7 linked regions of the Homo sapiens genome follow. The protein of the gene in region 1 purifies or fractionates together with the protein of each later gene. This does not show direct contact. Each region holds a gene or a part of one and is shown in the gene's direction. Other genes may lie near its edges.

Evidence for each region.
Region 2: the proteins of CD4 (region 1) and LRPAP1 purify together in Homo sapiens (affinity purification with mass spectrometry; one large-scale study listed by BioGRID and IntAct). This does not show direct contact.
Region 3: the proteins of CD4 (region 1) and MME purify together in Homo sapiens (affinity purification with mass spectrometry, with the first as the bait; one large-scale study listed by BioGRID). This does not show direct contact.
Region 4: the proteins of CD4 (region 1) and FARSB purify together in Homo sapiens (affinity purification with mass spectrometry, with the first as the bait; one large-scale study listed by BioGRID). This does not show direct contact.
Region 5: the proteins of CD4 (region 1) and ANXA6 purify together in Homo sapiens (affinity purification with mass spectrometry, with the first as the bait; one large-scale study listed by BioGRID). This does not show direct contact.
Region 6: the proteins of CD4 (region 1) and ZAP70 purify together in Homo sapiens (affinity purification with western blotting, with the first as the bait; one study listed by BioGRID). This does not show direct contact.
Region 7: the proteins of CD4 (region 1) and PCDH1 purify together in Homo sapiens (affinity purification with mass spectrometry; one large-scale study listed by BioGRID and IntAct). This does not show direct contact.

The regions. Positions count from the first base shown.
Region 1 is NC_000012.12:6,792,528-6,796,027, forward strand, and holds part of CD4 (T-cell surface glycoprotein CD4 isoform 1 precursor), read left to right. Parts: intron 1-3,500. UniProt on the Homo sapiens protein: Integral membrane glycoprotein that plays an essential role in the immune response and serves multiple functions in responses against both external and internal offenses.
Region 2 is NC_000004.12:3,522,423-3,525,922, reverse strand, and holds part of LRPAP1 (alpha-2-macroglobulin receptor-associated protein precursor), read left to right. Parts: intron 1-871; coding exon 872-1,016; intron 1,017-3,500. UniProt on the Homo sapiens protein: Molecular chaperone for LDL receptor-related proteins that may regulate their ligand binding activity along the secretory pathway.
Region 3 is NC_000003.12:155,111,319-155,114,818, forward strand, and holds part of MME (neprilysin), read left to right. Parts: intron 1-3,500. UniProt on the Homo sapiens protein: Thermolysin-like specificity, but is almost confined on acting on polypeptides of up to 30 amino acids. Biologically important in the destruction of opioid peptides such as Met- and Leu-enkephalins by cleavage of a Gly-Phe bond.
Region 4 is NC_000002.12:222,639,093-222,642,592, reverse strand, and holds part of FARSB (phenylalanine--tRNA ligase beta subunit), read left to right. Parts: intron 1-1,661; coding exon 1,662-1,731; intron 1,732-2,897; coding exon 2,898-3,013; intron 3,014-3,500.
Region 5 is NC_000005.10:151,137,280-151,140,779, reverse strand, and holds part of ANXA6 (annexin A6), read left to right. Parts: intron 1-536; coding exon 537-627; intron 628-1,332; coding exon 1,333-1,427; intron 1,428-1,988; coding exon 1,989-2,102; intron 2,103-3,458; coding exon 3,459-3,500. UniProt on the Homo sapiens protein: May associate with CD21. May regulate the release of Ca(2+) from intracellular stores.
Region 6 is NC_000002.12:97,723,576-97,727,075, forward strand, and holds part of ZAP70 (tyrosine-protein kinase ZAP-70), read left to right. Parts: intron 1-440; 5' UTR 441-461; coding exon 462-863; intron 864-1,516; coding exon 1,517-1,677; intron 1,678-3,500. UniProt on the Homo sapiens protein: Tyrosine kinase that plays an essential role in regulation of the adaptive immune response. Regulates motility, adhesion and cytokine expression of mature T-cells, as well as thymocyte development.
Region 7 is NC_000005.10:141,854,411-141,857,910, reverse strand, and holds part of PCDH1 (protocadherin-1 isoform 2 precursor), read left to right. Parts: intron 1-439; coding exon 440-659; intron 660-1,648; coding exon of another isoform or gene 1,649-1,674; exon of another isoform or gene 1,675-1,687; intron 1,688-3,474; coding exon 3,475-3,500. UniProt on the Homo sapiens protein: May be involved in cell-cell interaction processes and in cell adhesion.

The DNA.
Region 1 (3,500 bases):
TCCCACATCTTTCCCTCCCCTCCTCCCTTGAGGCTCTGTGCATTCTGGGGAACTCTGTCCATTTCCCTTTGTCCATGTGTCCCTCCCACCCTGCAGCCGGCTCCCTCACATCCACCCTGGGCTGCAGGCGTGCTCGGCAGGCTCCCCACAGATCAAAGCTTGTCCAGGGTCTGCATTGCTGCCAAAGGCCAGGAGGACTGTGTACAGACCGGAAGGAGCTAGAGCTTAGTGGCAGCCTGAGAGGGGAAGCTGAAAAAGGAGAAGAGGCAAGGGGCATTCCAGGGGAGCCCGGGAGAGCCAGCACGGCCGCCTGGTATATGAGGCAAAGAGGAAGACAGACACAGACACAGGGAGCTGCAGGCTGGGGGCATAAGCTGGGGGCTGGGAAGCATAGATACAGAAATGCACAGATGTGAGCTGAGAAGCAAGGAGGGAGAGAGAGAGACAGAAAGAGAGAGAGAGACGTGCCAGGGCTTGAGGGACCAGAGAGCCCTCCCAGCCTCTCTCGGAGTGCTGGTATACAGGATGCTACCGTACTAGGGTAAGACACCTCTGGGGACGCTGAGTATGGGAATCAAAGGCCAGATCTCTGGGGTGGCAGCGGAAGCCCAAAGCACCAAAGCAAGCATGCTGGAAACCCACAGCCTCCTCCACTTAGCAGAGCCTTGGGGTGAGATGAGGCAGAACAGGGAGCTGGAGGCAGGGAGGTGGCTGTCTGCACATACCTCAGGACCATGGAGCTGGGGGAGTCAAAACAGCCACCATATGGGGAAGGGTCAAGAATGCCTCTAGTCTTCCCCAGGCATCTTATCAGGGTAAGCTGAATTTGGACCCCAGAGAAGGGATATCGTTTATGGAGACTTCCCCTCTTTCATCCCCTGCTCACCAAGGACCCAGTCAGTCTGGGATGGGGGACAGTGGGAACCACTCTTTGGTATGAGGCTACTCCTATTCTACTCTTCTCACTGCAGCCTTCCCCTAGATGCCTCCCATCTGCATGCTAACCTGTAAACACTTCACCATCACTGGTGGCTAGTCTCCCTTCCTCCTTTTTCAGAAACCTCCTTCCTGACCTCTTTTCTTCCTACTTCCCCGGTTTAAACAAAATTGTATCTATCTATCATCTATCTATCTATCTATCTATCTATCTATCTATCTATCTATCTATCTATCTATCTTTTTTTTTTTTGAGACAAAATCTCACTCTGTCGCCCAGGCTGTAGTGCAGTGGCACTACAAGTAATCCCAAGTAGCTGAGATTACAGGCGCCCGCCACCATCCCCAGCTAATTTTTTTGTATTTTTAGTAGACACGGGGGTTTCATGATGTTGGCCAGGCTGGTCTCAAACTCCTGGCCTCAAGTGATCTGCCTGCCTCGGCCTCCCAAGGTGCTGGATTATAGGTATGAGCCACCACACACGACACCCGGCTTCTATCTATCTATATCTATCTATCTATCTATCTATCTATCTATCTATCACCTATCTATCTAATCTATCTATATCTGTCTATCTATCTTTATGTATCTATCTTATCTATTGATCTATCTATCTTTTTTTTTTTTTGAGACAGAGTCACTCTGTCACCCAGGCTGGAGTGCAGTGGCACGATCTCGGCTCACTGCAACCTCCGCCTCCCGGGTTCAAGCGATTCTCCTACCTCAGCCTCCTCAGTAGCTGGGACTACCCACCACCACTCCTGGCTAATTTTTGTATTTTCAGTAGAGATAGGGTTTCACTATGTTGGCCAGGCTGGTCTCCAACTCCTGACCTAAAGTGATCCACCCACCTTGGTTTCCCAAAGTGCTGGGATTACAGGCGTGAGCCACCGTGCCTGGACATATATCTATCTTTTTTTTTTTTGAGATGGAGTCTCGCTCTGTTGCCCAGGCTGGAGTGCAGTGGCGTGATTTCGGCTCACTGCAACCTCCGCCTCCCGGGTTCAAGTGATTCTCCTGCCTCAGCCTCCCAAGTAGCTGAGATTACAGACGTGCGTCACCATGCCCAGCTAATTTTTGTATTTTTAGTAGAGATGGGATTTCACTATGTTGGCCAGGCTGGTCTCGTACTCCCGACCTCAGGTGATCCACTTGCCTTGGCCTCCCAAAGTGCTGGAATTACAGGTGTGAGCCACTGCATCCGGCCTTATATATCTATCTTGTCTGTCTGACTGTCTAATCTAATTCATCTATTTTATCTGTTTATCTTATCTATCATCTATTTATCTAATCTATCTGTCTGTATGTCTGTTTTTTTTTTGTTTTTTTTTTTTTTTTGAGATAGAGTCTTGCTCTGTCGCCGAGGCTGGAGTGCGGTGGCGCGATCTCAGCTCACTGCTGAACCTCCGCCTCCTGGGTTCTAAGCGATTCTCCTGCCTCAATCTTTGGAGTAGCTGGGATTACAGGCCCGTACCACTGTGCCCGGCTAATTTTGTATTTTTAGTAGAGAAGGGTTTCACCATGTTGGTCAGGCTTGTATTGAACTCCTGACCTCAGGTGATCTACCCGCCTAAGCCTCCCAAAGTGCTGGGAGTACAGGTGTGAGCCACTGTGTCTGTCCCTAAATGTCTGTCTCTATCTATCTATCTATCTATCTATCTATCTATCTATCTAATCTATCTTTCTGTCTAACCTAATCTATTTTATCTATCTTATTCATCATCTATCTAATCTGTCTGTATGTTTATCTAATCTATTTACCTAATCTATCAATCTATCATCTAATCTATCTAATCTGTCTATCTAATCTATTTTATCTATCTATCTATCTGTCCATCCATCTATCTACCTACCTGTCTATCTCAAGCACCTACCACGTATTAAGCCCTGGCTACCTCCTCTTCCAGGCAGATGGAGTAACTGGAGGCAGCTAACAAAGATGGAGTCACTTTTCTTATCTTCTCCTAAACCACCGTAAGAGGACCAAGCCCCCACACCTTCTGAGTGCCCCATTCCTCTCCACAGATTGTGTCTTAGTGCCCAGCAGGAAACACAGTCCACCTCCCATGGTTCAAGAGATTGTAGAAAGGGGGTTATTCACATAGGTTAAGGGAATCAATCAATTTGAAGCACAGACACTATTAACAGCAGGAAGAGTCCTGAAGAAGTGAAAATGGTGTTTCTGGAACCCAGAGAGTGCTTGCACTCTGGATAAGGGGCCACCCCACAGAAGCTGTGGAGGGGCAGGGCTGCAGGTGAGGATGAACACACAGCTATTGACAGAAAATATGCCCAGGGCAGGGATAGAGTAGGAAAAATATCCCAGCTTCTTTCCCCCACCCTTCCATCTCATCTCTGAAAGGCACTTCCCACTGGCCAGCCCCGACTGGTGCTGGAGGGCAAGAGAGCCTATGAGCCATGTGTGGCTGTCAGCCCCTTGGTGGAGAGCCACAGACAGGATGGAGAGTGGCTGGCAGGGCCCCGTGGGGATGAACAGCTTGGATTGGGGCGACTGGGCTTCATCCAGGCTGGGCTGGATGTGTGCATACATTTCAGTGACCCG
Region 2 (3,500 bases), on another chromosome or scaffold:
TGAGAGCTGGCCGGTGGGTTTCATTCTGCTGCTTGCCTCGGCCGCCTGGCATTCTGGCCCAGTCTTTCTGACGTGGGGACACTCTTGGCCTAAATCCTGTCTTTGCAACCAAAAAGCAGTGTGCCCAGCGGTCACCTCACTTGCTTCCTTCTCTCACCCAGGGTCCCAGAGCTGGGAGGGCAGGGGTGGGATGAATGAAGCGTGGCCTGCCCTGCGGAGAGGGATGAGGGTGGGGCGGGGAAGTTCCTCAGCCCCAGTGCGGCAGCTCGTTCCGGGGCGCTGCCTGTGTGGTCTACGCCAGCAGGTAAGTGAGAGGGTGACAGATTCCTGCTCCAGAAGGATCTGGGGCTGTGTAAGAACCGTCTCAGCAAGACAGTTCGGATCATGGTACACTTGAGAGGTGGTGACTGAGGGTCTTTGGGAAATGAAGATGGGGCAGATCTGAGATTACAGTGATTTTTTTTAAAAAAGAACTTCTAGGTGTCTGTGTCCTTGCAATATGTATCTGCAATGGTAATGCAGTGGGTATCTTCTTCCTGCTCTGTTTATCCGAGTGCCCGATGACTGTCCTCAGGTGCTAGGGTGGGGTGTCCTGTTACAGCCGGACAGGAATGAGCAGCCGCTGCTGGTGGGGAGCCCCCGATGGACTTGGGGTTTCCGGATCGTGTATACAGACAGGCCTAGAGACTGGTGTCCATGTTGAGTTCTTGTCTAAACCTGTGGGGTTTGAATCCTGCTGACAGTGACCCTGACTCCACCTCTTCCTGGTCTCCCAGAACCTCCCGGTGGCCAGCCTCCTCCGAGGTCAGTTTCTCGCTGTGTCCTGGTCCGTCCTGCTCGTGGCTCACAGGCTCCTCCCCTTCGTTCGCAGCTGCATCTTCCTCCCGTGAGGCTGGCCGAGCTCCACGCTGATCTGAAGATACAGGAGAGGGACGAACTCGCCTGGAAGAAACTAAAGCTTGACGGCTTGGACGAAGATGGGGAGAAGGAAGCGAGACTCATACGCAACCTCAATGGTACGTTTGTTTCTTTCCTAATGCAGGTCGAGTATCCCTCTTCCTAAATGCTTGAGAGCGGCAGTGTTTTGGATGTCGGATTTTGTTTTTGGATTTGGGAATATTTGCATTATGCTTAATCTGGATATCCAAAATGAGCCTTTCCCCGAGCATCCTGAGTGCCCAGAAAGCTTAGGATTTGTGTTGGGGGCTCACCCTCATGAGGGAGGTGGCCACTGGCTTCAGTGTTTGGGGGGGCTAACCCTCATGAGGGATGGTGGCTGCTCGCCTCAGTGCTGTGGGCTACGCCTCTGACTCCTTGGCTTTTGGCCAAGGGGCCCATTGGGCACAGCCTGCGGGGGGCTATCCTCCGAGCACAGATGCGCCCTTGGCCGTGGTCTCAGTTTGCTGTCACAGATGCCATTGGCACGCCAGAGGGAGGGCCAAGGCAGGGGCTCTGGGTGCAGGAAGGGGCCGGAGGACAGCAGGAGGCTCTGTCACCCAGAGGAGGAAGCAGGTCTGCCCTAGCATCTTGAAGTTTTGGGGACATACTCCAGATGTCATCAGAATGGACACTTGGTTGTCATGCGCTTAGTGAGTCCTCGTCCCTGTGGGTATTCAAGAAGAGGCAGGACAGTCGCCTGCTTGGTACCAGCATACGGAAGACAGGTGTGTCCTCAGAGCCGGGAGGGTTTTAAATGACAGAGTTGCGACTGTTCCTTTTGGACCCCTCTCCTCCGCCATCCTCCCTCACCACGGGCCCGTCGGCAGGGCACTGGCGGGCAGAGGACGCACACCAGGTGGGCCCGTGGGACTGGGGTTGGGGCTGCTCCGGAGAGTCGAGTGCTCAGCTGCCTGCTGTCAGCTATGTGTAGCAGCCCTAGGAGCTGCTGTGCCTCCACCCAACTGCTGCCCCTGGGCCTGACCCCAGGCACCCCTTCCCCAATCCCCTCCCCCGCTGCTCCCTGTGTGACCTGGGCCCCCGGCACAGTCCCCTGCCCCCCACCTCCGTTTCCTCCTCCTGTCTCACAGGACGGTGGTGTGAACCAAGTGGGATACTCCCCACTGTGGTGGGGGTGGGGGTGGCTGCCATCGCACTTGTTGCTGTCGTGAGGGTGGCCCCAGAGCCCTGGCCATGTCTGGAGTCTGCTGTAGCCCTGCTTTTCACACGCGCTGATGGCCTCAGGCATTGCAGCGCCCGGGTTGTCTCTGGTAAAGAGAGGAGGTGTCTACGGAGTTCCTTCGTTAGGCCTGATGCTCTAACACCTACTCCTCAAAACTCGTTGTCGTCCCATTTGACAGGCTCAGAGAGGGTGATTTGTCTGGAGTTGCAGAGCCGAGTAGTGCAGCAAAGATTTGGAGTCAGGGTTTTCTGACTCCTGAGCAGGTGGTCTGTTCCCAGCCACCCCTCTTCTCCCATTGGCAGGCATCAGCAGACATGTCATGTGGCTGCGCCCGGGTTAAAGACAGAGGGCCGGCTTCATTTTTGCTGGTTTATGCCACCATGTTCAAGAGTCTGGTTGAGACGTAAGCCAAGATACGGCGGCAGGGACTGCCTGGGGAAGAGAGACATGGCTGAAACAATTCTGGATGGTTGCGTCCCCACCAGCGTGTCTAGTGGGCCATTCCCAAGGGCCAAGAAAGAGCCTGTCCTGGAGGTGCCCCCAGGAAGAAGGGACTGGCTATGCAGCAGGGCAGCATTCGGGGCCTGGAGGAGACAGAGTAGCTTGCAGGGGGCACAGAAGTGGGCTAAGAACCAGCTCCCTCCTGCAGGCCAGGCAGTGTCCTTGCAGGGTGTCCAGGTCTGTGGCCCAAGTGGAGCTGTCTTGTTTTCTGCCATTGCCTAGTGACCTGGCAGAAAACTTAGTGGGACTCTAGGAGCCGGCGTCCCAGAAGCAGACCCTGCCCACACTCAGGAAAGAGGCTCGTCCTGGCCAGTTCCCCGCCATCTTCTGGGTGTGGTCCCTGGACCCCCGAGGTCCCCCGTGCCATTATCAAGTGTGATACCATACCTGGGGGACCAGCCATAGCCAGGTGTGCCTGCCCTTGGCACCCTCCATGCTGAGGTCCACCCTGAGACAGACGGGCCACGCTCCACTCTGCCCTGCCCTGCTCTGCTCTGGGGTTCGCTCCTGTCCTCACCCCCACCGCGCCCCCAGGGCCACTTCACTCCCCAGGCAGGGAGTGTGGGGCGGCGTCCGTCCTCCCCAGGCAGGGGGTGTGGGGCGGCGTCTGTCCTCCCCAGGCAGGGGGTGTGGGGCGGCGTCCGTCCTCCCCAGGCAGGGGGTGTGGGGCGGCGTCTGTCCTCCCCAGGCAGGGGGTGTGGGGCGGCGTCCGACTTCCCCAGGCAGGGAGTGTGGGGTGGCGTCTGTCCTCCCCGGGCAGGGCGTGTGGGATGACGTCCGTCCTCCCCAGGCAGGGAGTGTGGGGCCGTGTTCATCCTCCCCAGGAGCTCTAAGGGCTCGGTGCTCCTGAGGCCGCCTCCAGCTTCAGTGCTCTGTGACT
Region 3 (3,500 bases), on another chromosome or scaffold:
ATATTCATCAGAACAGAGAGCGCTCTTTGAAGTGATTGGATGCATCCATGCTCAGACAAGCTCGGTGGTCAAAGGGAAATTTTAAAGAGTGGCCCTGGAAGGAGTTAGCAAAGTTGCCTCTTCCTCTCTCTGCTCTGCACATCCCTCACAAACTGAATGTTATTTCTTTGGTTTGTTGTGCAGATGCAAGTAATTTAACTGTACTTTTTGCCCCCTGGGAGATGTGGGAAGTACAGTTGCTTTTACAGGATGGAGAATTTGCACTCATGATCAGAGAACTGAAACTTCCAGCCATCCTTTTTATTCAGAGTGTTTAAGGACCGGTGGTATTTCCAAATAGGCAGTAGGGCTTGTTCATGCTCTGCTTGTTCATTCTGCTTGTTCATTAATTGTTCACTACTTTTCTGAGTAGAGTTCATTGCTCTGTGATGTCGTGACAGAAGCTTTCATTTCCCCAGAAAGAGGAAGAAAACAGAAGTGCCCCCTCCAAATGGCATAGCCTTCACAACATTCAGTTTAAATGTTTTTAAGTATCTTAAAAGAGAAGAGTTATATATTGCTAAGTGTGTTCTTAGAATGTCTGTAGTTAGCACTTCTTTCAGGCTCTAGTTTTCTGGTTTTTCACTTTACATAATAATCCTCTATGTATTTAGGATCTTTATTTTTCACCTTTCCCGTTACCATATTTTTATTTCCTTCAAAATTCGAGGGAATTGCTTTTTCTCTCTACCTTTTTTAGATCAGTTTCCTAGTCTTTAACTGAGGTGTTAAAGTTGGAGTTTTTACTGGCAAGTCTTGACTGAGCACAGTGTTAGGCTCTGTGAGAGAGAATATGCATTTTCTATTTTCACAGAGCCACAGTCCAGGTGAGGAGATAATGAATTTGCATGCGAAAAATGAATATGTTGTGAGCTGATACAGACTTTTGTCAGGCCAGTCTTTCATAAAGAAGTATTTGGAATGGGCTTTGAAAATGCCTGAAATTCCAAAATGAAATAATATGAAATAATATTTATTAGTACGTATAGGGGCTGGGTAACATGCTCAAAGTTACAGAGGCAGAAAACCATAAGGTGTCTCACAGAAACTGAATATACTCATTTAACTGTGACAGATGGCTCATGCGAGAAAGTAGCAAAGGAGAAGCTTCATTCGTTCTATTAGTGTTAGAATGTGCTATGGAATCTGGATTTTATTATGATTGCAAAAGGATGGTATTGAAAACTTTGGAGTGGAAAATGACATTCTGAAGTATTTTGAGAATATGAATCTGCCTGTGGAGTACAGAATGGACATAGGTAAGAAGAGGCCTGGGGCCACAACTTTGTCAAAAGGGCACAAATAGAGTCTGAGAGAAAGAGGGTTTGAGACAGAATGGAAACAATGGGAAAGATGGAATGGACTCTGGAGGCAATGAACTGAGAACGGATCTGACCTCTGTGGCAAGGGGAGAGGAGGTGAGTGATGGGCTGTAAGAGAAGGTGGTAAGAAGACTCATAGATGATTCAGTCACACATAACCATAATTGCACCCCTGTTACCTAGGTGCTAGGTGATACAAAGAGATTAATCACATCAACAAAATGGTTAGGTAGACAGAGTAGGTATTTACAATGAAAAACTCAAAGTAGTCTCACATTGAAGACAGAGTGAGGCAATGAGCTCTCAGGAGTCAAGAGAAATATTCCTTGAAGTTTGGAGTCACAGAAGCATCAGGGAAGAGATGGAACATGAGCTGAATGTTGAATGATGGGTAGAATTTGGAAAGAATGACAGGGGCAATCAAAGCTGTGGGATGAGGAGGTTAAAGCAAAGACACAGGACTAAGAAAACACAAGGAGTGTTTGTGACACATTGACGAGGGCCATCTGGTTGGAACAGAGTTTGCATAAACCACCAAAAGAGGAAAAGGGGAAGGTAGGGTGATACGTTTATTCTGGTAAAGGTTTAGACACCAAGCTAAAGATTTTATTTTTATTTCTGAGATAGTCTCTCTCTGTCACCCAGGCTGGAGTGCAGTGGCGCTGTCTTGGTTCACTGCAACCTCCACCTCCCGAGTTCAAGCTATTCTCCTGCTTTAGCCTCCTGAGTAGCTGGGACTACAGGTGCCTGCCACCATGGGCAGCTAATTTTTGTATTTTTAGTAGAGTTGGTGTTTCATCATGTTGGCCAGGCTGGTATTGGACTCCCAAAGTGCTGGAATTACAGGCGTGAGCCACTGTGCCCTGCCAAGCTTTTATAATTTAACCTGGGAAATGTCAAGCCACTGACATTTTTCAGCAAGGTTGTGGCCAGTGTCAAAGAGTCTTTCGGGAAGTTTGGTTTGTGGAAGATGTGTAGAATATATCAAGATGAAGAACTGGGTGACTTCTAGTCAAAAAGGAATGATGATATAAACCAGGTACCAATCAGAATGAGAGGTATGGAAGAGGGGCAAAGGAATTACCAGTAAACCAAGGGGAAATAGAAATACAGTTTTACCCAAAGTTTCAAATCCAGGAGGCTATGATAGCAACTGTGCTGTATACTAAGGCATACAACTCATGAGATGACTGGTTTGGTAACAGTCCTGAGCGTTTTGTTTTAAAGAGCTGGGTCCTGAGGTTCCAGACAAGCAAACATGCCAAAAAAGTGGTTCAATGGGGGGGCTTGAGGCTCAGCTGGAAACCATGTTTACCATACCAAGTTTAAAAAATCCACACAGCTCAGCAATTGTTTGAAGTTTTTAATTAATTAATTAATTCATAAAGTGAAGTATTTTCAAAAGCTCATCTGAGAGCTTATATTCTCTTGATACAGATGAATTCTCAATTGCTCTTTTGTTTTCATTGCAAAACAGTTCAACTTGTATGAGACTCAAAGTGGGGAGGGCAGGAGCAGAATTTTCTCTGTTCCGGGTATAGACATTATGGGTATTGGGCCATATTCTCCTCTTCGTTGGTAATAATTCCTATTTTATACATCTTTCTATCAATTGCAGCTCCTACCAGAGTCAACGTCTTGATTGTAAATACTCAGTGTTGGTTGATTTGCATTTTCATCATAGTCCTGAAAGATAAAAGTGGACCTAAGAAAAACTAATAAGCTTACAGCCAGTTTTATAATGACAGACTCTATATAAACAAATGCAAATTGGATGTCAAATTTGAATTACAAAATTTATTTGAGCAAGGTCCAGGAAGTAATAACAGTGTCTTCAGATCTTTTCTAAAATGATAAAAATTCATTAACAATCTTCCATGGCTTGGAGTCTCAGAGACTTTCAAAAGTCACAGCACTTTGAAGAGCAGAGTTGGCAACTAAAGTTATCAGAGTGAAGAATGGCATGCTAACCTCAGGTGCAGGATGGCCAACTCAAAGTAGACCTCTATTCTTTGTTCTTCTGAGATAGGAACTAGCCAGAAACTTAGTTATTCAGGGGTGGGGTGGGAAGGCTGTGGGACCCAGGGTGGAAGGACCCACACAGTTCAAAATAAAACGAACCAACTATAGTGAAGGAAA
Region 4 (3,500 bases), on another chromosome or scaffold:
AAAAAATTATTTAGCAGGTGTGTGTGATTCCCCTCCGTGATCTAATTGGAATGAGTAGTTCACTGGATGTGTTAAAAGTTGAGAGGAAATGGAGAGCTAGCAATAAATACCCTTACATTATGAGTTCTAAGGAAGCTCAGGAGTGAAGCCTCCTAACTGGAAAAACCAAAGATCTTATGACGGCTCTGTGATCTTGAGCAAGTTAGTTGGCCTCTCTAGTTTCAATTTCCTAATCTATAATGAAGAAGATTTATAAGGCCCCTTCCAGCTTTTCATTTAATGAAGATAGAGGGGCTGGACATGGTGGCTCATGCCCATAATCCCAGCACTTCGGGAGGCCGAGGCTGGTGGATCACTTGAGGTCAGGAGTTCAAGACCAGCCTGGCCAACATGGTGAAACCCCGTCTCTACTAAAAATATGAAAATTAGCCAGGCATAGTGGCGTGCACCTGTAATCCCAGCTACTCAGGAGGCTGAGGCACAGAATCGTTTGAACCTGGGAGGTGGAGGTTGCAGTGAGTCGAGATTTGCACCACTGCACTCCAGCCTGGGCAGCAGAGGGAGACTCTGTTTCAAAAAAAAAAAAAAAGATAGAGGATAACAAATATATACAGTGAAAAAAATGAACAGCTATTAAAAATTGTTTTTATTTTTGATTACTTCTTCATTATCTGGTCAGCTGCAAAAGAATAAGAGTTCTAACTGATGGGCTAGATTCTGAAATTGTGAGGGTTTAGGTGAGTGATGGGTATTGGTGAAATGGTGATAATTAGGCATTAGGTTAAGGATGGTTAAAATTTTAGAGTTGACTCAGTTGGTTTCCTATGGGACAATCAGATGCTTTTATTTTAGGATCAAGGATAACTCCTGAGAGTTCGTTTCCCAAACCTGCCCAGTGAGAATCTGTATTTTTACCAGTCACCTTGTGATTTTTATGATCAGACAGAATTAGGAAAGCAACTTAAAATGTTTTCTACTTAAAGTGAGTCCATGGACCAGCAGCATCTGAATCACATGAGAACTTACTAGAAATGCAGTCTTAGTCGCCACCCAACACCTATTAATCAGAATCTGTGGTTTAACAAACTCCCCAATTGATTGTAAGCACATTGAAATTTGAGAAGCACTGCCTTAAAACAGTAGTTCCCAACTTCTCCCTATGATAAGAGTTCCCTAGAGATGCCTTCAAAATGCACCATTTACCAAATCTTTGTCTTCACTTATTTTATTCAGTAGGGCCAGATGGAACCAGGGAATCTGTATTTTCCATAAGCTCTGTTTCTTCCTAGAAGCTCAGAATCTCATGGTTAGAATAACTATCATAACTTAAAGGTTATCTAATCCAGTCCCTCAGCTGATGTTGAAATGCTCCTTAAACGGTTGCTCAGTTAATGGTTTGTAGCCTCTGCTGGGATGCTAGTGATAGGAAATACATTACTATGAGGCATCTTATGTCATTTTTGGACAACTTTAAATGTTAAAAAGTTTGTTAGTTTTTTTTTTTGTTTTTTTTTTTTAGTGTTCAGCCAAAATTTGACTTGCTGTAACTCAACCCATTGCCCTAATTCATTTTGTATACTTCCTATATACAGCATAGAATGTAATTATTTTATATAATGTCTTGATTAATTATGAGTAAATTCATTTAAATATTATTTTAGGATAAAGGCTCCAGTGTATAAACGGGTAATGCCTGATGGAAAAATCCAGAAATTGATTATCACAGAAGAGGTAATAAGGACAAATTCTTATTTTTCTTTTAAAAATTTTCTTTTGTACATGTCTGTATAAAGTGGGGAGGAAAGAGAAACAAAGCTTACTCTTTTTTTTTTGTTTTGAGACAGGGTCTGGCTCTTTTGCCCAGACTGGAATGCAGTGGTGCAGTCTTGGCTCACTGCAACCTCTGCTTCCCAGGCTCAAGTGATCCTCCCACCTCAGCCTCCTGAGTATTTGGGAGTACAGGCACACGCCACCACACCCGGCTAGTTTTTTGTATTTTTTAGAAATGGGGTTTCACCATGTTGCCCAGGCTGGTCTCATTCCTGAGCTCAAAGGATACTTCCCCTGCAGCTTCTTGAGTATTTGGGAGTACAGACACACGCCACCACACCTGGCTAATTTTTTGTATTTTTTAGAAATGGGTTTTCACCATGTTGCCCAGGCTAGTCTCAAATTCCTGAGCTCAAAGGATCCTTCCCCTGCAGCTTCTTGAGTATTTGGGAGTACAGGCACACGCCACCACACCCAGCTAATTTTTTGTATTGTTTAGAAATGGGGTTTCACTATGTTGCCCAGGCTGCTCTCAAATTCCTGAGCTCAAAGGATCCTTCCCCTACAGCCTCCTAAAGTGCTGGGATTATAGCTGTGAGCCTCTGTGCCTGGTCCAAAGCTTACCCTTCTAAAAAATGTGATTTTCTTTGATCATTTGCTAAAATGATTATATACTTAGCCCCTAGCCCTTAAAAAAACATTTTTTTTTAACCTAGGAATGAAAAAGAACAAAGCCTTTGCTTTCCATAAATAATTTTGGATAATAATATCCAATGCATGTTTAAAACACATTTGAGATATAATTGTTTAAATTGTGGAACATTAATGAAATTTTAAAAGATTTTAAACTTTTCAGAGGGGTTGTTTGGTAAATATATGAATTATGAGCAAACTTTTTCTCAATTATTTAATACATTTTCAGAAATCTTACTGAAATATAAATTCTGTGAAGGTAGTGACTTTTTCTCTTGTTTACCACTTTATTACTTGTTGACTGAATAAATTAATATATACTTGTTTGAATGAAAATGTATGCCAGTGGCAAGAATGCAGCTACCTTCCTATTACAAGATATTACAAAGAAAAGCCTTACTGTTTGCTATCTCTAATGATATTATGAATTTCAGACAGCTAAGATACGTCCTTTTGCGGTAGCAGCAGTTCTCCGTAATATAAAGTTTACTAAAGATCGATATGACAGCTTCATTGAACTTCAGGAGAAATTACATCAGAATATTTGCAGGTTTGTGGTTGCATTTTCTTTCTTCCTTGCCTTCCCCTTTCCCTTTGTCTCCCTATCTCCTTTCCATCCTGATCCCTCTCCCTCTTCTCTCTTGCCACTTCTGCCTTCTTTCTCTCTCTCTCCTTCCTTTCTTCCTCTGCAGATTTTTTACAAATCATTTCTAAATTAATAGTATGTGACAGAATATGAGAATTTCACTTTGCTTTACCAGATACCTTTTACTGCTTGTAAATGCCATATGCATGGAGAAACAGGAGGTATATTTTGAATACTGTATAGAGAAGAATTATCTAGTCCTAGAGACTTCCCTGCTTTTTGTTGTTGTTGTTTTGGTTCAGATCAGTCGTGGATTATGCTACTAAGTATAAACCGTGTTAATGAAGTATGATATATCATTTTTAAAATGGAAATAACATTTTGGCTTATTCTCACTTTTTGAGTGAGAGTAATTATAAATTGACAGAACTTGAGTTTAAATGACTAAATT
Region 5 (3,500 bases), on another chromosome or scaffold:
CATTCACAGAGGTGAAAGTGTAAACATAAAATGCCATAAAAATATGAGGGGCTGGCTGGGTGCACTGGTTCATGCCTGTAATCCCAGCACTTTGGGAGGCCAATGTGGGAGGACTGCTTGAGGCCAGGCATTCAAAACTAGCCAGGGCAATAGAGTGAGACCCCATCTCTTAAAATATATATATATATATATATATATATATTTGACTCTTGCTATTCTTGCAGGGATCATTTTCATCTCCTATACTCAGCCAGGCTTTTTTACCCTCTCCTGGATGCTTTGGAAGGTGGTGCAGGGCTGCAGGCCTTGGCCAAGCCCCCCTCCCTTGGGGAAATGGCACTGTCCTTTGGGCGGGTTGCAGCAGGTGGTATGGGAAAGTCATCCACACCGCTCCCCAGGGTGTATGTGGCCAGCACTGGATTTTGCAGGGAAAGCAGCTCAGCCTGGACCAGGGTAGGCATCTGACCTGAGGTTGGGGCTGGGAGCTTGGTCTCAGTCCGGGGTTGGCAGCTCACCCTCTACTTTTTTCTCCACAGGGTGCCAAGTACCGGGGCTCCATCCATGACTTCCCAGGCTTTGACCCCAACCAGGATGCCGAGGCTCTGTACACTGCCATGAAGGGCTTTGGTGGGTGCCAGGCTTCATGGGAGCTTGAGGGGTATCCCCCAAAAGTAGACACAGCCCAGAGCCCTTCTGGTGGTGGTGGTAGGGTCTGTGAAATGGTGAAGTGCACTTATTCATTTTTTTGGTCTCCTCTTTTTATTAATTTTCATGATGTTATAATAAAATGTTTCAGAAAAAAAGTATAAAGAATAATAGAAATTTCACCCATAGATTTACCACCAAATTTAAGAACTAGTGCTTCATTAGCATAGTTGAAGTTTCCTTGGTAGATCCCCCTCCTGATAATGCCGCCCGCTGCCTTTGCCCAGAGGCAGCCACAATCCGAAGGTGGTGCTTATGTTCTTCTTTGTCTTGTGGTGGAAAGAACCCTGTACTGGGTGTTAGGATACCTGGGTTTTCTAAGCCAGGTTCATTGTGAGACCTTGGACAAGTTCTTGCCCCTCTCTGGGCCTTAATTTCCTGATTTGTGCAGTGAGGAGCTGGATCAGGGGCCTTCTGAGCACAGATATTGTGTGTGCTGTGTCCACTTTCAGTCGTGACTTAATAAATCCCCATGACCCTCTGCCCTGACACCAGCACCTGATGAGTGGAAGGCTCATGCTGAGGCCTGCAGGGAGCTACTAGGCCTGTGTCCAGGGAAGGAAGTGGCCCTGGTGGGCTTCCTGGAGGCAGGGTGGGTAGGATGATGATTGCTCTCCCCTATTCCAGGCAGTGACAAGGAGGCCATACTGGACATAATCACCTCACGGAGCAACAGGCAGAGGCAGGAGGTCTGCCAGAGCTACAAGTCCCTCTACGGCAAGGTAACCACAGCAACCGGAGGGCCCATGGGGTGCGGGTGGAAGAATGATTTCATTCACCTGTGTGCTCGTTCAGGTTATTTCCTGGATATGGCACTCCAGGTTAGCCTGTGGGCTGACACCTTACCCTGCTCTTTTTCTTCTCATCAGCTGGGCGTCTTTCAGCCTTTAATACACCCACAGCACCTGCTGTATGCTGGGCTCGTGCTAGGTGTTAGGGCTGCACTAGTGAATAAGATGGGTGAGGTGTCAACTCTGTGGACTGCCAGATAGTGAGAGAGATACACAGTAAACGAGGAAACAGACAGTGGTGGGGAAGTGGCACAGGGCTGTGGACCTGACCCTGCATAGCCGTTTGCTAGCAGCATGACATGGAGTAAGACCTCTGTTGTTTCTGAGCCTGTCTCTTAGGGTTGGTAACAGTACATACCTCCAAGGGTGATGATTTAATGAGATTACTTAGCCCAGCACCTGCCAGAGTAAGTGCTCATTAAGTGTAATTCTTACCGTTGTAACTACTCTTCCTCTTTCCTCTTCTATCTCCTCTTCTTCCCCACCTGCCAGGACCTCATTGCTGATTTAAAGTATGAATTGACGGGCAAGTTTGAACGGTTGATTGTGGGCCTGATGAGGCCACCTGCCTATTGTGATGCCAAAGAAATTAAAGATGCCATCTCGGTAAGAAGTGGGGGTGTATGTGGTGTTGGGGTGGGGATGTGGTTAATGGGAAGATTCTGGGCTCTTCCAAAAGCAACTGGTGAGCCCCATACCCACCCAGCACATGTGTCCTGCTTCAAAGACACATCTAAATTTATCCCAGAGGAGCATCCCGATCCGCACACAGAGAGATGCAGACAGATGTCAACATGATGCAGACCCCCTTACCAGGAGCTTGTAGTCCAAGGATACAGGTTATAGGGACATGGAGACAAATTGTGTCCAACACTCCTGAGGCCAAGGGCACACTAAAGGTAATCAACATGACCCTGGGCCAAGGGTTGTTTGAGAGGGCATCTTAAAGGATAATAGGATCAAGTTAAGCCCCAAAGCCCAGAGAGGATTTGGTGGATAGCAGTGTCAAGGTCATTGCAGGGTGTAAAAATGGCAGGAGAAGTTGTGGATCTGTGTTTAGGGTATGAAGAGTAGTTCAGCCCGGTTGAGGTAGAGGTAGAGAATTGCCCCCTAGGAAAAAGAGAGGCAAAGCCCTTTAAGTGTATCTAGCACTTTACAGTCTATAAAGTGCTATGATCTTTGTCTTCTATGAGCTATTAAGCATGAATTCATTTTATAAACTGATGCACTTAGCAATGTGAGATTATTATCTTCTCAATCTCCCTGTGAGTTTGGCAGAGCAACTAATATCATCTACATTTTACAGATGAGAAAACTGAGGCCCAAAAAGATAGTTTCTGAAGAGAATTCACAAAGCTGGAGGAGGCAGAACTAGAACCTTTGTGTTTTAGTCCATTCTCACATCGCTATAAAGAAACACCTGAGATTGGGTAATTTATAAAGAAAAGAGGTTGAATTGGCTCATGGTTCTGCAGGCTGAACAGGAAGCATTGTGGCTTCTGCTTCCGGGGAGGCCTCAAGAAGCTTCCAGTCTTGGCAGAAGGCAAAGAGGGAGCAGGCATCTCACATGGTGGGAGCAGGAGCAAGGCGGGAGGTGGGGAAGTGCTACATACTTTTAAACAACCAGATCTCACAAGAACTTACGATCGTGAGAACAGTAGCAAGGAGATGGTGCTAACTATTCATGAGAAACCGCCCCCATGATCCAACCACCTCCCACCAGGCCCCACTTCCAACATTCAGGTCTACGATTCGACATGAGATTTGGTGGGGAAACACATCCAAATCATATGACCATGTCTTATGAGTCTCAAGGCAGGAGTTCCCAATCAGTGCCTAAGAGCTGGGTAGGAACCTCCTGAGTCCTGGGGTGTCATAGCTCTGGCCACTCCCTGATCCCAACCTGTGTCCAGTGACCTCCCATCCCTGCCCTTAATTCATGCGCTCTTTTTCTACCCCCAGGGCATTGGCACTGATGAGAAGTGCCTCATTGAGATCTTGGCT
Region 6 (3,500 bases), on another chromosome or scaffold:
ATTATTATTTTTGTTTCTTTCTCAGTTTATCTCACGGCTCTCCCTCCTTAGAGTGTTGCCTTCGGGAGGACGGGGTGGGACCGCGCCTGCCTCAAGCGTGCATATCCCCAGCACCGGGCCTGAAACACAATAATTCAGCACGTGGTTGGGACATGAAGAGATGGGTACAGGTGTGGGTGCTTGGGGACCAGTTGGCGTGCTTGGGCGTCCACATAATGTCTCTGGAAAGTCAGATGGGGGTTTGGGACTTCTCGATCTGTGCCCAGCAGGCTGCGGCTTCTCTCCAGGTTGACTCTGGCACAGAGCAGGCTCTGCCCCCTTGGCGAGCTCAGTCTGCGGCACTGATGCCCTCCACTTGGCGTCTCTCGCGCCGTCTTTGGGCCCAACGCACCAGGTTCAGGAAGGCCCTGACGTGCCTCCGACCCTCTGTGAACCCGCAGGTTTCGGGAGGCCCAGGGGCGATGCCAGACCCCGCGGCGCACCTGCCCTTCTTCTACGGCAGCATCTCGCGTGCCGAGGCCGAGGAGCACCTGAAGCTGGCGGGCATGGCGGACGGGCTCTTCCTGCTGCGCCAGTGCCTGCGCTCGCTGGGCGGCTATGTGCTGTCGCTCGTGCACGATGTGCGCTTCCACCACTTTCCCATCGAGCGCCAGCTCAACGGCACCTACGCCATTGCCGGCGGCAAAGCGCACTGTGGACCGGCAGAGCTCTGCGAGTTCTACTCGCGCGACCCCGACGGGCTGCCCTGCAACCTGCGCAAGCCGTGCAACCGGCCGTCGGGCCTCGAGCCGCAGCCGGGGGTCTTCGACTGCCTGCGAGACGCCATGGTGCGTGACTACGTGCGCCAGACGTGGAAGCTGGAGGTGAGAGCGCAGCCTGGGGCGCGGGGTCTGGAGGGGCGTGGCCGAAGAGGGGCAGTCGAGGGTTTTGGGGGGATAGGAGGGAGGAAAAGGTCGTCTTCCCCATTCAGTCCCCTTTGGAAGCTGGAGAGGTGGGGCACTGGTTGGGGAAGAACCTGAAAGGAGGCCTCAGAGGCAGGGGCTCCGTGGTGGCGGTCGCCTTCCGCAGGCTGAGCGATGCTATGGTGCTCTACTATGCCAGATGGGAAGGTAGAGGGACGCACTGGGCCGGGCGAAGGCGAGGCTTGGAATGGGGGCGGGGCTGAGAGGAGGGTGCGCGGGGCTAGGGTGAGCCCTTAGGGTAGGGTGGCTGTTGGGGAAGATGGGCAGTAGTCGTCCACAGCCTGAGTGACACCACCATGCACAACTACCTGAATTAGGTCTTCAAGCTGGAGATGCGCTTGGGGCCGCGCTGGAAGGTGGGGGTGGTTCCTCCCTAGCTGGATTGGGGAGGGGACCACGGAGATGGCGCGGAGGTAGTCCTCGAAAACCTGCCTAACACGCGCTAGGGACGCCTGGGTGGGGTGGGGAGTCCTCTGGGACAGGGCTCCCGGAAGGGGGTTCCTGTGGCGAGCACTTGGCCACACCTACAGACCTCCTCGCCTCTCCTTTTCTAGGGCGAGGCCCTGGAGCAGGCCATCATCAGCCAGGCCCCGCAGGTGGAGAAGCTCATTGCTACGACGGCCCACGAGCGGATGCCCTGGTACCACAGCAGCCTGACGCGTGAGGAGGCCGAGCGCAAACTTTACTCTGGGGCGCAGACCGACGGCAAGTTCCTGTATGTGGGGCCCGGGATTTGGGTGCGGTGAGGATTGGGGCTCGTTGGCAGGGATCCTGGGGACTGGGGCAGACGTGAGTGTGCAGTTGGGCCGTAAGGGTGTCCCTGTGCTCACATGTGCAAGTGGGTTGTGTGTTTCTGATGTGCAAAGGGACTTGCACATGGGGAAGTAGAGGTAGTGACTAGGAAAGCCTCCAGACTCGGTCCCTTGGCCTGGCTTGGAATCCCGCTTCCGCCACCTGCTGGCTGTGGCCCTTGGGCAAGTAGCGGACTGTGGTTGCCTGCCTCAGTTTCCCCTCCTTCAATCAACAAATATTTACTGAATACCTACTGTGTACCAGGCACTGAGCACACGGCAGTGAGCCAAAAAGACACAGTGCCTGTCCTCATGGGGCAGGTAGACAAGAAAAGGAATCAATAAAATAGAGACCCTGTCAGATGGTGGTAAGCGCCGTGTGTGCAGGTGGGGAGGCGGTTGCAATTTTAGATTAGGTGGTCAGAAGAGGCCTTCCTGAGAAGGTGACTTCTGAGGAAGGGAAAGAAGCTGAGGAGTGAGCTGTGCAGCTTTCAGGGGGAAGGGTGTTCCTGGAAAATGCAATGGCAAGTGCAAAGATCAGGAGGCAGGAGTCTATTTGGCGTGTTCCAGAAACATTGTGGAGGCCATGTGCCTGGAGCTGAGTAAGTGAGGGGGAGAATGGGAGGAGGTGAGGGCAGGGCGGGGACTTTAGCTTTTCCCCCAAGTGAGGTGGGATCCCCGGGAGAGTGTTGAAGCAGCCCCCTCTAACTGTCCTGTGGTTGACAGCAGTACCTCCCCTCAGGATCCTCTATGAGGATTACATGAATTAATACGTGTGAATCGAGAGTATGGTAACTGACATAGGAAAAATGCGGTAAATGTTAGCTTTTATATGTGGGTGAACGTGCGTGTCTGAGCCACAGCTGAGGCCATGTAGCTATTTGTGAGTTTGTTAATGTGAAAAAAATCTCTGAAAATCTCTTTTTAAAACTCTGCTGAGTGTTTGACAGCCCTGCTGGGGCTGTTGCTCTCTGGTTTGGACACGGGATCTTTTCTGTAACAGATGGTATCCAGGTGCAGCTGAGGTCACTCAGGCCTCAAGACACAGATAAATTGGTGCTGCCTCTTTCCCATGACCTCAGGAAGCCCAGTGTTTTCCCCCAAGAAATCTGTGGGGACAATTCTTGGGCCTTCCTTCTCGTGAGTGCTTCTTGGCCTGAGCCCCTGCCCAGCAGATCCCTTGGGTCATCTGCCTCCCCCAGGGCTGTTTCCTCTCCTGAGGTCAACCCACTTGGAGGAAATGACCACATCCCTTGATTTTCCTCACCCATGTGAAGTTTCTGTAGATTGCCTGCAGGCCTCTTGCAAGATGCAGCTCCCTCTCCAAGATTCTGTTGTGGGCTGATAAAATAACTCTTTTCACCCTACCATACAGATTCAGATTTAGGCTGTAAATTGGAGTGGAGTTTCCAAGGCTTCTGAGGGAGCTCTTAGATACATGTTGCACGTAATACTCAGTTGCCGGCACAACTTCTGAACAGGACAGGGCTGTTTTCTCTAAGAGGAAACCTTTGCATTTGTATCAGTTAGCTTTTGCTACATAACAAGCAGCCCTAAGATTTATTGGCTCAAAATGACAGTTTATTGCTCTTCATGATTCTGTGAGCTAACTAAGCAGTTCTGGTTTGGGTCATCTAGGCTGGGCCTGAATAGGCTGGGATGGCCACACTCACATGACTGGCCATTGGCTCAGTGTCACCTGGGTGATGGGGATGAGCTGGCCCAGTGCAGCCATCATCCAGCAAGC
Region 7 (3,500 bases), on another chromosome or scaffold:
AATTAGGGGAGTCGGGTGGTATTATGTTACTCTGGTATTGGGCTCTACACCGTATTACAGGTCATTCTGGGATTAAAGGGAGGCTGTGCCAATATTGGGAAGCTGGGTTAGAACTAGAAGGGTTGTGCTATAACAAGCGGTTGCACTGGATGAGGGTTATTGGGGTAGCATAGGGGCTATAATAACACTGGGGCCTGCGCTGTATTGGGACTTCCAGTATGTGGACTTGGCTGTACTAGGAGCGGTCCTAGAACTCAGGAGCTGTCTTTCACTGGGGCCTGTGCTTTCGGGAGGAATGTGCTGTGCTGGGGCCTGGGTCTCTTCTTGGTTGCTGTTGAAGCCTGAGTAGGATGGTGCTTGGCTTGTACTAGGGCCTGGTATGGTGGTGGGCCCTGTGGGCAAGCTGGCTGGTCAGTAGTGACAATCTGTCTCCCTGCAGTTACCTCACCGCCGCGTCACCTTCTCGGCCACCAGCCAGGCCCAGGAGCTGCAGGACCCATCCCAGCACAGTTACTATGACAGTGGCCTGGAGGAGTCTGAGACGCCGTCCAGCAAGTCATCCTCAGGGCCTCGACTCGGTCCCCTGGCCCTGCCTGAGGATCACTATGAGCGCACCACCCCTGATGGCAGCATAGGAGAGATGGAGCACCCCGAGAATGGTGAGGCGCAGCACCATGGTCAGGGCACCCCAGGAATGAGTGGAAGCCTGGGAATGGTGACAAGGCCTTAAACAAATCATCTATGTATTGAGTTATTATGTGCTCAGTCATCATCACCGTGCTGAGGGCTTTCAGGTATACACGCATTTAATCCCCAGAACCACTCTGTGATTTGAGAACTTTATGGCACCCACTTTACAGTGGAGGAAACTGAGGCTTAGAGAGGTTAAGTCACTTGCCCAAAGTCATACATCTAGAACGTGACAGACCTGGGAGGGATTCAAACCCAGGTTTCTCTGACTCCAAAGCTGTTGCATTCGGCACCATGTTTACACGGCCACCTGGGAACAGGGACCCTGAGTGTGGTGGCCAGAAAGCTCACGTAATGGTGAGGAAACCTTGAGAAGGTGGGTGGTGGTCCTCTAAGGTTGGGAAGGCCTTGAGAATAGAGATTGGGCCCTGGATGCTACAGGGGGCTCAGAGAATGGAGTGACGATATGCTGGGGTGAGGAGTGGGAGAAGGTTTGGCACCTCTTTGAGGAAGAGCGCGGTAGGAGGTCTGGTGAAGAGAAAGGCCTGTCTGGGAGGGATTTGGAGGGTGATGGCAAAAAGGAGGTGTGAGCCAGCGCAGAGGTCGGCATGGGAATGGATGGTGAGGTGTGCCGTCAGTGTGTGTGCAGTGCGTGTGCATGTGTGAAGTCGTCCATGGCAGCCTGTGGAGGGGGAGAGTGAACGAGCTAACCCCTGAGATGGAAAGACTCTCTAAGTTGGAGTTGTCCTCGGGTCCCACCCACTCCCTCAACTCAAAGCCTCCTCGCTCCACAAAAGATGGGAGGTTTCACTCCCCTGCCTCAGGCACAGGGCCCTTGTCTAACCTCCCGGGCCCTTGTCTAACCTCCCAGGCCCTAGGTCTCAGAGTGCCCTCCACCCCCACCCCGCCCCTCCATGCGCGATCTCATGCCCGTCTCATCCTTTTTGTGCCCGCGCAGAGCCGGCTGGCCGGAGCAGGCCCTGAGGCAGAGTGCCAGGTATGTGGGAACTGCTCTGGGGTCTGGGGTCTGTGGGACTCTGCCCAGCACCCAGCCTCACCCACCCAGTGCCCATGCTCTGCTCTGAGCCATGTTGCGTCCCCCAACTCTGCTCTGAGCTGTAGAGCCTTGGCACTTTGAGGGTTAACAACAGAGCTGTCCCCTCCTCACCTGGCACTGGCAGGAGGCCAAGCCATAGTGGGTGGTGCCAGGGGAGCCCCTGTCCCAGGCAGTGTTGCTTAGCCATGTCCCTTGGGGGTGGGGGGGGGTCACTGCCTGGTGCTGTCCCTGAGCAAGGGCAGGACAGGGACAGCTGTGACAGGAAGTACTCATGGCCCAGCCGTTCCCATGGAGACCCCCGCTGCCCAGCAACTACACCGGCTACTGCTGATGTCAGGCAGCCAACTCCTGTTCCCGTGGGTGTTCTGGGCAGGGAGCTGGGGCAAGGCCAGGGGTGGTGGCTGGTTTAGGGGCCAGAGTGAGGTGGGGAGGGGCTGCATGAGCGTGCTTGTGGATGTGAGTGTGTGCCTCTATGTGAATACCCCACACAGAAGCTCGTCCCTTCCCCCTGGCTTTAAAGCAAGGTCTTGCAGGAGGAGGGTGGGTTCAGGACCACCGGGAGCATGTGAAGCTTGAGGGGGTTCTGAAGGAAGCAATGTACCCAATTTCATCTGAGGATAGAGGTGCCCACTGTAGTAGATTTGTGTATCCATGCCTATCTGTGTGTGTGAGAGGGAGAGAGAGAGAGAGTTGATTGTGTCAATCAATTCAATGAGGATGGAGGTTTCCTCAACCCCACCTGAGGATAGATTTGCACATTTAAGTCTGTCTGGAGATAGATGAGGCAGTGTGTAGATGAGTGTGTGTTTGTGCACCTGTCTGAGGGCAGATTTGGTGGGTGTGTAAGAAGAGCACTGGGGGGTAGGTGACGCTGGAAGGAATGTGTCTATTTAGGGCTTGGTGGCTCATGCCTGTAATTCCAACACTCTGGGAGGCTGAGGCAGGCGGATTGCTTGAACTCAGGAGTTCAAGACCAGCCTGGGCAACATGGCTTAAACCCCATCTCTACAAAAAAATATAAAAAATTAGCCAGGCATGGTAGTGCATGCCTATAGTCACAGATATTTGGGAGTCTGAGGTGGGAGGATTGCCTGAGCCTGGGAAATTGAGGCTGCAGTGAGCCAAGATCACACCACTGCACTCCAGCCTGGGTGACAGGAGTGAGACCCTGTCTTGAAAAAAAAAAGGATAAGGCTGGGTGCGGTGGCTCATGCTTGTAATCCCAACACTTTGGGAGGTCAAGGTGGGTGGATCACCTGAGGTCAGGAGTTCAAGACCAGCCTGGTCAACCTGGTGAAACCCCATCTCTACTAAAAATCCAAAAATTAACCAGATATGGTGGTGGGCGCCTGTAATCCCAGCTACTCGGGAGGCTGAGGCAAAAGAATTGCTTGAACCCGGGAGGTGGAGGTTGCAGTAAGCCGAGATTGCGCCATTGCACTCCAGCCTGGGTGACAAGAGCAAGACTCCATCTCAAAACAAAGAAAAAGAAAAAGAAAAAAGATAGATTATGTGTGTGTGCGTGTGCGTGTGTACAGTAGGCCAGTAGGTCGATGGTGGGAGGGCATGTGTCTCTTTGAGGGTGTGTGTGCCTGTGAGTTCAGCGGTCAGGAAGGGGCGCATACTCCTGTCCTGAGGTGGGGTGTAGATGCCAGTGGGAGGCCATGAAGCAGAGCTTTGCAGAGGCTGTATGTCTGACAATTGTCCTTCCCCGCTCCCTCCTACAGACCTTCGCCCTTTGCCTGATGTCGCC